Regions from separate parts of the Homo sapiens genome. Here all the other regions are reported to be linked to region 1. Evidence: microRNA targets listed by miRTarBase, many of them from high-throughput screens and not tested one by one. Region 1 holds a microRNA gene; each other region holds the end of a gene's coding sequence.
The links. The annotated mature microRNA hsa-miR-641 reads AAAGACAUAGGAUAGAGUCACCUC and lies in region 1 at 1,628-1,651, shown strand. An mRNA with a match to its seed (bases 2 to 7 or 8) in the 3' UTR can be bound and repressed. Matches are read on the target gene's strand: a 7mer-m8 pairs with bases 2 to 8, a 7mer-A1 pairs with bases 2 to 7 and ends in A, and an 8mer does both.

Region 2: miRTarBase lists NBPF3 as a target of hsa-miR-641. Seed matches in the 3' UTR shown: 7mer-m8 at 1,644-1,650.
Region 3: miRTarBase lists IQGAP2 as a target of hsa-miR-641. The part of its 3' UTR that is shown has no 7-base or 8-base seed match.

The regions. Positions count from the first base shown.
Region 1 is chr19:40,281,010-40,284,253 of GRCh38, reverse strand. MIR641 (microRNA 641) reads left to right here and starts at 1,613; the gene lies at 1,613-1,711. The region is part of intron 1 of AKT2 (AKT serine/threonine kinase 2); the gene reads left to right.
Region 2 is chr1:21,482,795-21,485,794 of GRCh38, forward strand. It overlaps NBPF3 (NBPF member 3), which reads left to right. Exons shown (of 15, transcript NM_032264.6): 15 at 349-2,106. The coding sequence ends at 592. Among named protein-coding and RNA genes, the nearest start is that of ALPL, 25 kb to the right of the region's middle.
Region 3 is chr5:76,706,980-76,709,979 of GRCh38, reverse strand. It overlaps IQGAP2 (IQ motif containing GTPase activating protein 2), which reads right to left. Exons shown (of 36, transcript NM_006633.5): 36 at 1,848-2,780. The coding sequence ends at 2,667. Among named protein-coding and RNA genes, the nearest start is that of NCRUPAR, 3.9 kb to the left of the region's middle.

The sequences.
Region 1 (3,244 bases):
TTAAAACTTGGGAGGAAGGAGTGTTTGGGGGAACACCTCTTCCCCCCAGGGAAGCTCTCTGGGGGCATCTTGATCTTGGGATTGTGAGGACCTCTTCCTCTCATTTGGAGACCTCTTGGGGCTCAGCAAGACGCCTGGGCTGGAGTAACTAGAGCCTCCAATGGGCTGCTTTTCAACTTCATCCACTCCTACCTTCCCAGAGAAGCAGCAGGAGTTCACTCGTGGGCTGAACTTGGTTGGCAGTGGATGTGAAGGGTCCAGGAACCAACGCAGACCACTACATGCTCCTCTGTCGCTGGCCACGAAGCTGTTTGTGTCTCCCAGTTACCAGCTCGGTCACACATCATGTTTACACTCCCCACCAAGGCAGTAACAGTTGGCCTTGCAGTGAGGCCGGGAGCTGTTTTCCCAGCTGTTCCTCTTTGCATAGGCCAAGGGGACTTGGAGTGGGGGTGCCCCTGGCCCAGCCTGGCCCAGGGAGGAAGGCTGCTCTGAAGGGCTTGGGACAGTCAGATCCCCCATGGATCTGGTGTCTTATTGTGGTCTGTGGGCTGGTGCTGGGAGCAGCCAGCCCCAGAGGTCTGTGGCCAGTGTCCCTGCTCCCTAGGCCAGATCATGACCTTGGCTTGCCCTGTAGCCTTTGCTCTGGGTCTGGAGTTCCCAGAGGACTGGCTGCAGTCCCTGATTGACCCAGCAGACCTGGGCTGGTGATGTGGTCAGAGGGGGCAGATGGTTGCCCCTAGTCCGCAGCAGTGACTTCCAAGCTGACTGGCTTCCGTGGCTCGTGGTTCCTGGAGAGAAAGGTCCCACAGTCTGTGAGGCAGCGGCGACTCTGTAGAATCTTTCTCCACTAGGGGTTTGTTCCTCTGGTCCTCTCCTGCCAGCTTTTAGAGGGTTTGCCTGATGGGGCTAACAGTGGCAGTGAAAACAGTAATCATGAAATTGATGGCTGACAGTAACTGAGTGCATTCTGTGGGCCACACACTGTTTGGAATGCTTCATATAGATAAACTTGCTGAATACTTGAATTCTAGAGCGGTAGGCGCTGTTGTTATGCTCTCCCTTTTAGATGAGAAAACAGCATCTCAGAGAGGCAGATCATTTCCAGAGCTAGTGGATGCCCAGTGTTTATAGCATTCACCCCATGCCAGGCGTGTGACAGGGCTTTTGTACATGTGATCTCACTTAAGTCTCAAAACATACCTGTGGTTAGGCCTATTTTATGGAGAGCTACGAGCTAGTTAGAAGTGTGATACCATTTTACAGATGAGGAATCATTTCACTCACTGTGAAGTGCAAAGATTTCCCAGAGGTCTCATAGCTGAAGTGGGAGAGGTGTGATGTGAGCCCTTGGCCAACCTTGGCCTCAGATCGTCTTGTCAAGGAGAAACTGGAGGAGTGGCTTTTGTCTGTGAGCATATACTCTGCCCAGCCCTGTGCTTTGGGCTTTATATGGTATTTGTGTCCTTTTTTGCAGAGTCCGAAATTGAAGTTCAGAGGAAGAATTGCCTTCCACCGCATCTTATCAGACCCTATGGGTGCCAGGGTAGGATTTGAACCCAGGTCACTGAGCCCCTAGTGCCATGCATTCCTTGCTCACCAGGTTCCAGGCTGGGTGAAAGGAAGGAAAGACATAGGATAGAGTCACCTCTGTCCTCTGTCCTCTACCTATAGAGGTGACTGTCCTATGTCTTTCCTTCCTCTTACCCCTGAGCCTCAGGCTGCCCTGAGCATCTCTGCCTACAGCCAGTCCAGCATTTCTTGGTCCCTCCTCAGAGTGGAGGCAAGGCATCCTTTAACCCTGGGCAGGTGTGTGCTGGGAGAAGAAGACAGCAAGAGAGCCATGCAGGGGGTGACACAGCTACCAGGGACCTGCGTTAGCTAGCAGCAGGACGGTGAAGTCGGTTCTAGCTCTGCGACCTTGGACCACACTGTTCACTCCCATACAGTGGTCTCAGAAGGACGTCCACCTTGGGCTGTTGTGAGGATTAAATGAATTAATCCACGAGAAGCTCCTAGAATGGTGCCTGGTACTGTGTAAGTCTTGGTTGGCAGTCATGATTATGTTATGGAACGGAGGCATCCAGCCTCCCCCACCCCCTACTTTTGGTCCCCTCGAGCATTCCGGGATCCAGCTCCCCAGCCTGGCCCAGCTAGGATCCAGAACTTCAATGTTCTGGTTTCCAGCCTCTGTAAAGAGGTGTATGGAAGCGAGTGAGAGCACAGGGTTCAAATCCAGCCGTGCCACTCCATGGCTGTGTGACCTTGAGCAGGCTCCCCAACCCTTGTGAGCTCATTTCATCATCGGTGCCATGGGGATGATGATAATTCCCACCTGATAGGATTATTGTGAAGGCTGAGTGGATTAATTTGTGGGAAGCATTCATAACTGTTCTGGCATACAATAAGCCTACCGGAAATGTCTCCTCACTAAGAACAGTGCCCGACACATGGTGAGCTGTTGGTCTGTCTTAGCAATTGTAATTCTTAGTATTTCTGCCGGGACTTTGAAGGCCTTTGCCAGTTCACAGAACCGTGTCAGAGAGCACTAGGAGGAGATCAGGGCTGAAATTAGCATCTCAGTTTTACAGATGCAGAAACAGAGGTCGGGGGAGACATGCAATCAAGTCAGAACTGACAAGGGCAGCTCCCGGGCCCACTCCTCTTCCACGCAGTGGCTTTGCAGCCCTGAGCGCCTCCAAGGTAGACACACTGGAGTCTTTTCAGAGGTCAGGCTCTGTGCTTGTTTTTTTTTTTCTTTTGAGACAGGGCCTCCCTCTGTCACCCAGGCTGGAGTGCAGTGGTGTGATCACAGCTCACTGCAGGCTTGACCTCCTAGGCTTTAGTGATCCTTCCACCTCATCCTCTTGAGTAGCTGGGACTACAGGTGCATGCCACCATGCCTAGCTAATTTTTAAATTTTTTGTGGAAACGGGAGTCTCGCTATGTTGCTCAGGCTAGTCTTGAACTCCTGGGCTCAAGTGATCCTCCTGCCTCAGTCTCCTGAGTAGCTGGGACCGTAGGTGCATGCCACTGCCCCTGGTTCCCAGCCCACCACAGCTCACAGCTCTGGGAGTGGCAGGAAGGCTGGGCCTGGGCAGGGGGAGCAGCAGAAGTGCCTGCAGGGGTTGGCAGGGGCTGTGCTGCACTGGCCTGTGGGCCTGGGTGAGAGGTGAGGATGGATCCTAAGGGTATTGTGGAGCCGAGGAAAAGGTTTCACTCATCCGCCACCATTTACTGAACA
Region 2 (3,000 bases), not on the chromosome of region 1:
GGAAAACTATTGAGCTCACTCTTCTCATGATCACTGTTTGCTGTGTGTCCTGAGGGCACTAACTCACAGTGTCCTTTTACTCCCTCATCAATGTGTCACCTGGCCAATTCACTGAGCTCACTTTCTCTCTCTCTCTGTCTCTCTCTCTCACTCTCTGTCTTTCTCTTTCATTGTTTTCTACTTGGCCCTGTTCTATCCCAACATAAAGGCAATAATTTTTTTACCTCATTAATGGAACTATCCTTTTCCTTTTTTGACCACTTCCTTATGTTACCCCTGAAATCTAGTTGGGGCTCTGTGGTGTCTGATTTTCCCTGGCTGCTTCTTTAGTTTTGTCTCCTTTTCCAGGCTCAACGAGGTGCTGATGGAAGCAGAAGAGCCTGAAGTCTTGCAGGACTCACTGGATAGATGTTATTCGACTACTTCAACTTACTTTCAACTACATGCCTCATTCCAGCAGTATAGAAGTGCCTTTTACTCATTTGAGGAACAGGACGTCAGCTTGGCCCTTGACGTGGACAATAGGTTTTTTACTTTGACAGTGATAAGGCACCACCTGGCCTTCCAGATGGGAGTCATATTCCCACACTAAGCAGCCCTTACTAAGCTGAGAGATGTCATTGCTGCAGGCAGGACGTATAGGCACATGTAGGTTTGAATGAAACTGTAGTTCCCTTTGGAAGCCCAGTCATAGGATGGGAAAGTGGGCATGGCTCTATTCCTATTCTCAGACCATGCCAGTGGCCACCTGTGCTCAGTCTGAAGACGTTGGACCCAAGTTAGGTGTGACACGTTCACACGACTATGTAGCACATGCCGGGAGTGATCTGCCAGACATTCTAATTTGAACCAGATATCTCTGGGTAGCTACAAAGTTCCTCAGGGGTTTCATTTTGCAGGCATGTCTCTGAGCTTCTATACCTGCTCAAGGTCAGTGTCATCTTTGTGTTTAGCTCATCCAAAGGTGTTACCCTGGTTTCATTGAACCTAACCCCATTCTTTGTATCTTCAGTGTTGGTTTGTTTTAGCTGATCCATCTGTAACACAGGAGGGATCCTTGGCTGAGGATTGTATTTCAGAACCACTGACTGCTCTTGACAGTTGTTAACCCACTAGGCTCCTTTGAGTAGAGAAGCCATAGTCCTTCAGCCTCCAATTGATATCAATACTTAGGAAGACCACAGCTAGACGGACAAACAGCATTGGGAGGCCTTAGTCCTGCTCCTTTCAATTCCATCCTGTAAAGAACAGGAGTCAGGAGCCGCTGGCAAGAGACAGCATGTCACCTGGGACTCTGCCAGTGCAGAATATGAACAATGCCATGTTCTTGCAGAAAATGCTTAGCCTGAGTTTCATAGGAGGTAATCACCAGACAACTGCAGAATGTAGAACACTGAGCAGGACAACTGACCTGTCTCCTTCACACAGTCCACGTCACCACGAATCACACAACAAAAAGGAGGAGAGATATTTTGGGTTCAGAAGAAGTAAATGATAATGTAGCTACATTTCTTTAGTTATTTTGAACCCCAAATATTTCCTCATCTTTTTGTTGTTGTCATTGATTTTGGTGACATGGACTTGTTTGTAGAGGACAGGTCAGCTGTCTGGCTCAATGGTCTACATTCTGAAGTTGTCTGAAAATGTCTTCATGATTAAATTCAGCCTAAACGTTTCATCAAGAACACTACAGAGTCGATACTGTGAGTTTCCAACCTCAGCCCATCTGTGGGCAGAGAAGGTCTAGTTTGTCCATCAGCATTATCATGATATCAGGACTGGTTACTTGGTTAAGGAGGGGTCTAGGAGATCTGTCCCTTTTAGAGACACCTTACTTATGATGAAGTATTTGGGAGAGTGGTTTTTCAAAGTAGAAATGTCCTGTATTCCAGTGATCATCCTCTAAACGTTTTATCATTTATTAATCATCCCTGCCTGTGTCTATTATTATATTCATATCTCTACGCTGGAAATTTGCTGCCTCAATGTTTACTGTGCCTTTGTTTTTGCTAGTGTGTGTTGTTGAAAAAAAAACATTCTCTGCCTGAGTTTTAATTTTTGTCCAAAGTTATTTTAATCTATACAATTAAAAACTTTTGCCTATCACTCTGGACTGTTGGATTGTTTTTTACATTCAGCGTTATAATCTTTTGTTATGCTGATTGGTTTTGGTGGGTACTGATGCGAATTAATAAAAACATTTTCATTTCCCTGTTTATTTTCTAATCTCTTCCACCTTGTAGGCTATGTTTACCATATGTAGCAGAATGCATGTACTCCATTTCTTGGTTCTAGATATTTATATTCTTTGTGAGAGTGTGTGTGTGTGTGTCTGCGTGTGCCTCTGGCATTTAGGAAGGGTTGTGTAGCTCATGTTTGATATTGACTAAAAATGTTTCATAGTTTTCCCCCCTTTGAACTAGACACACTTCTAATATTTGGTTTATACGTTTTAAATTATGACTTTCAACATCACATATTTCCATATGACAGTCAATTACATGATGTGTTTTCTTTTTCCTACCTCCTTTACCTGCCACTTCTCATAATCGTATTTGAACCTAAACATACACCAGTGACATTCTGTGGTTGTCATCTTGCCCACACCTTGGTTTTTGGTTTAGATCCACAATTAAATATATTAATGCTCATGAGCTGTTCAAAAGTGAATGTCACAGTCATCACTTGCTGAGTGGTACTCATCCTAACAGAGTCCTCATGAGGGAATCAGGTCTCGCTGAGTTTAGCATGTTTAATAATCTTCCTCACGGTCTTGATACATGGATCGCATTACTGGATATAAGGTGTTTGCCCAAAATGATTTTTCTTGTGTTTTTAGGAGCTATTGTCTTCCTTGCGGGACATACATGGTGTATGTTCTCGTTGTGGGATTCTATTTTGTTCTACCAGGACCTATAATTTCTGCCAGTTACTTCATTTGTTCTCTTCACCATGAGTCTCCAGCGGATGCTTCCTTTGTCCATGCCTCCCCATCTCCCA
Region 3 (3,000 bases), not on the chromosome of region 1:
GACAAAGTCATAAAAATCACATCATGAATAGCATTTCTAATTTGTGCCCAACCACACACAAACACTAACGTATAATTATAGTTGAGATCATTCATATCAGACAACGGTCACACCAAGCTGGTCTTTCTTCACCACTAACTTTCAGAATAAAGCATACACATATTTTCCTTCTCCTGAAGACCACTAAAGCATATCCTTTGAGAGCACCTATAGTGTTGCATAAGTACTTTTTGCTTTTAAGATCAAAATAATCAAAATAATCAAAATACAGGAGTCAGTTTTGCAAAAATAAGTTATAGTTCCAATTGCTCAGTGTTTAAAAGCAAAAAAGCAAGCAAACAAAAAACCCAAACAACAAAAAACCTTTTCCATTGAGTAAGAAAAATCTATGGGCTCTGGGAGGAAGTTGGAGTCCTTAGTGGCTCAGGCTCAGGGTTATCAAGAATTGTCCTCTGGCTTGAGGGACAGTTTAGTCCTCTTAAAGAGTAGCACAGGACTTGGCTCCAACAAATCTCTGTAAACTGAAGTCTGCTACACCCAGGCCCCGATGGCCCTTGGTTTTGTTCCTTCATCATGAGCCTTCTTCTCAGGTCACCCATTCATACCGCTTAAAGATCTCACACAAATAGCAATTGGTGATGTCTTCAACAATAACCTCATCTTGTGGGCCAACAGAGAAATCATTCACAGCGTTCCTTGAAGGTATTGACATGATGCAAATATCTTTATTCGTACAAATAACATTCAAGCATATCATTCAGTGTTGCAATAAGTTAAGATAAGCTCCTTTCAGAGATGCTGGGAAAGGCTGGCTTTTGCCTCCAAAACATTGCTCCCTAATTTTGGCTCCTTCTATACATTTCCACTAAAAGCCTTGCCCGGAGCAAGAAGGAAGCTTACCCTGCCCACCCCTCATTGCCCCTGGCTCCTGTTCCCCTTTCCAATGCTAGCAGTAGGGCAAGAGGGAGGTTTATTTTCAACGTGAAACTTAACTGTATATTTAATTCCTTCTACCAAAGCCTGCATTAAGGCTAATGCATTACAAAACATACATACCCGCAAACTGTTGAGATAGTGAGCATTGTTTTAAGCTATTCATCTCTTTGTCAAAAAAATATACATAGCCTGAAACCATCACTAAAGTAGCAGATTTTACTTTTTTTAATTTGAATTTTCCAAATTCTGTTGGTCTTACCCTTCAAGTTTATTTGTGCCACATGTACATAAACTAACCTACTTTCTCAATATTTTGCAATTTGTGAAAAAATAAAGCCTGTTGCAGGCATGAACAAAGTGGCAGGGAGGTTCCAGCCTGAGAGTCTGGAATCCTTTTGTGGTGAAGACTCCTAAACTGTCAGCAGGAATCACACTCCTTTTCTTCCTTTTAATAACAGACCCAATTCCCTCTCTACCTCTCTGTATTCACTGGCTACATGGCTGCCTAGTTAGGGACTATCTTTAGCTAGCTGTGTCCACATGACTCAGTTTTGGCCAATACAATGTAAGTGGAAGTTAAAGTGATGCGTATAACTGAAAAGGCTTGCCCTGGACTTCTTCGTCATCCTCTTCCTCATCTGGCTGGGGGGAATCAGTACAAGGACAGAGCCAACTGACCCACCTGGAAACTCTTTACCTTGTGGATCTGCTCACCGTTGAGCTGAATTTGAGAAAAACAAACTTCTACCCCTTGTTTTAGACACCAGGGTTTTGTATCTTTTCCTTACAGCAGCTTGCTCTCTACTTTAACCAGTACAGCAAGAAATGTATTCTCTCCTAACAAACCCGACCAAGAATCTTCCCCTACCCACTAAATGACTTTGATTTATTAAGACAACTTAAAAGCCAAATTAATGGAATTAAGTAACATTTATTTTACATAAAACAATTTCCAGAGAATACATTTAAAAACCATCTAGATACTGATTTTTTAGCATTACAAAAAATTGAGAGGCACAATTGAAGTATTCAAATAAATTGTGAGGGGTGGAGGTGGGGACTATGCTCACTATCTATGTTGTTCCTTAGTCACTTAAAGGCTCTGCGTGCAAGAGTCTTTACATGAGGCAGTAGTGCACTTTCATTTAGTAGGAATAAATCACATAAAATATATACTTTTATACAGAAAGTGTTATTGTGTTGTCATTTTCAATTACTTATAAAAACTTCATTTGAATTGCACAAAAGTTCTCTTTAAAATTGATAACTCCCAGAAGACAGGGCTTAGAACTGTCTAAATAATTCATTACAAATAATTAGGTTTCCATTTATCCATAGATTAAAAAAACTATGAAGAATTACGTTATTCAAGTGGGACATTTAAAATTTTTTTCATAGGAAAATAGGTTTACATGTTTGTCCCTAGTCAGCTAAATTTCCCACCCCCCAACTTTAAAACAGATCACAGGATGTCCAAAGTTTTAAATCAGAGTACCTATATCACAGTACAGTGTGGATATGTTTCCATTAATTCATTTTATGTCTCATTCTATTATAGTATCAAATTAGCAAAAAGGCACCTGGGTACATTCTTCAGAACAGTTTTGGTCGTTTTAAAAAAATCACACATTTATAAGCAGTGATTTCAATCATGTTTAAAAACAAAAATATTAAACAAATTCATTTCCTAATCCAGATGATACAGAATCCAAGAAATTTCTGTAGGCACTTCACTTTCCATAGAACTTCTTGTTCAGCAGGTATATGAGAAGGTTTACATTCACTTTAACCTTATCAAACATTTTCATTACAGCTACTCCTTCATATTGCATCTGAAGTAAATCCTGAAATTGTAAAAAGCATCATTAAATCTCAACTTTGACATTTTGTGCATTTAAAAAACATATTAGAAGAATTTGTTGACAAAAGTCAGATTCAATTGACCTAATCACCTGGGTGGGGTCTAACTATGTTGCCCAGGTTGGTCTCAAACTCCTGGCTTAAGCTATCTTCCCACCTCAGCCTCCCGAGTAGCCAGGACTACAGGCGCATGCCATGGCACCA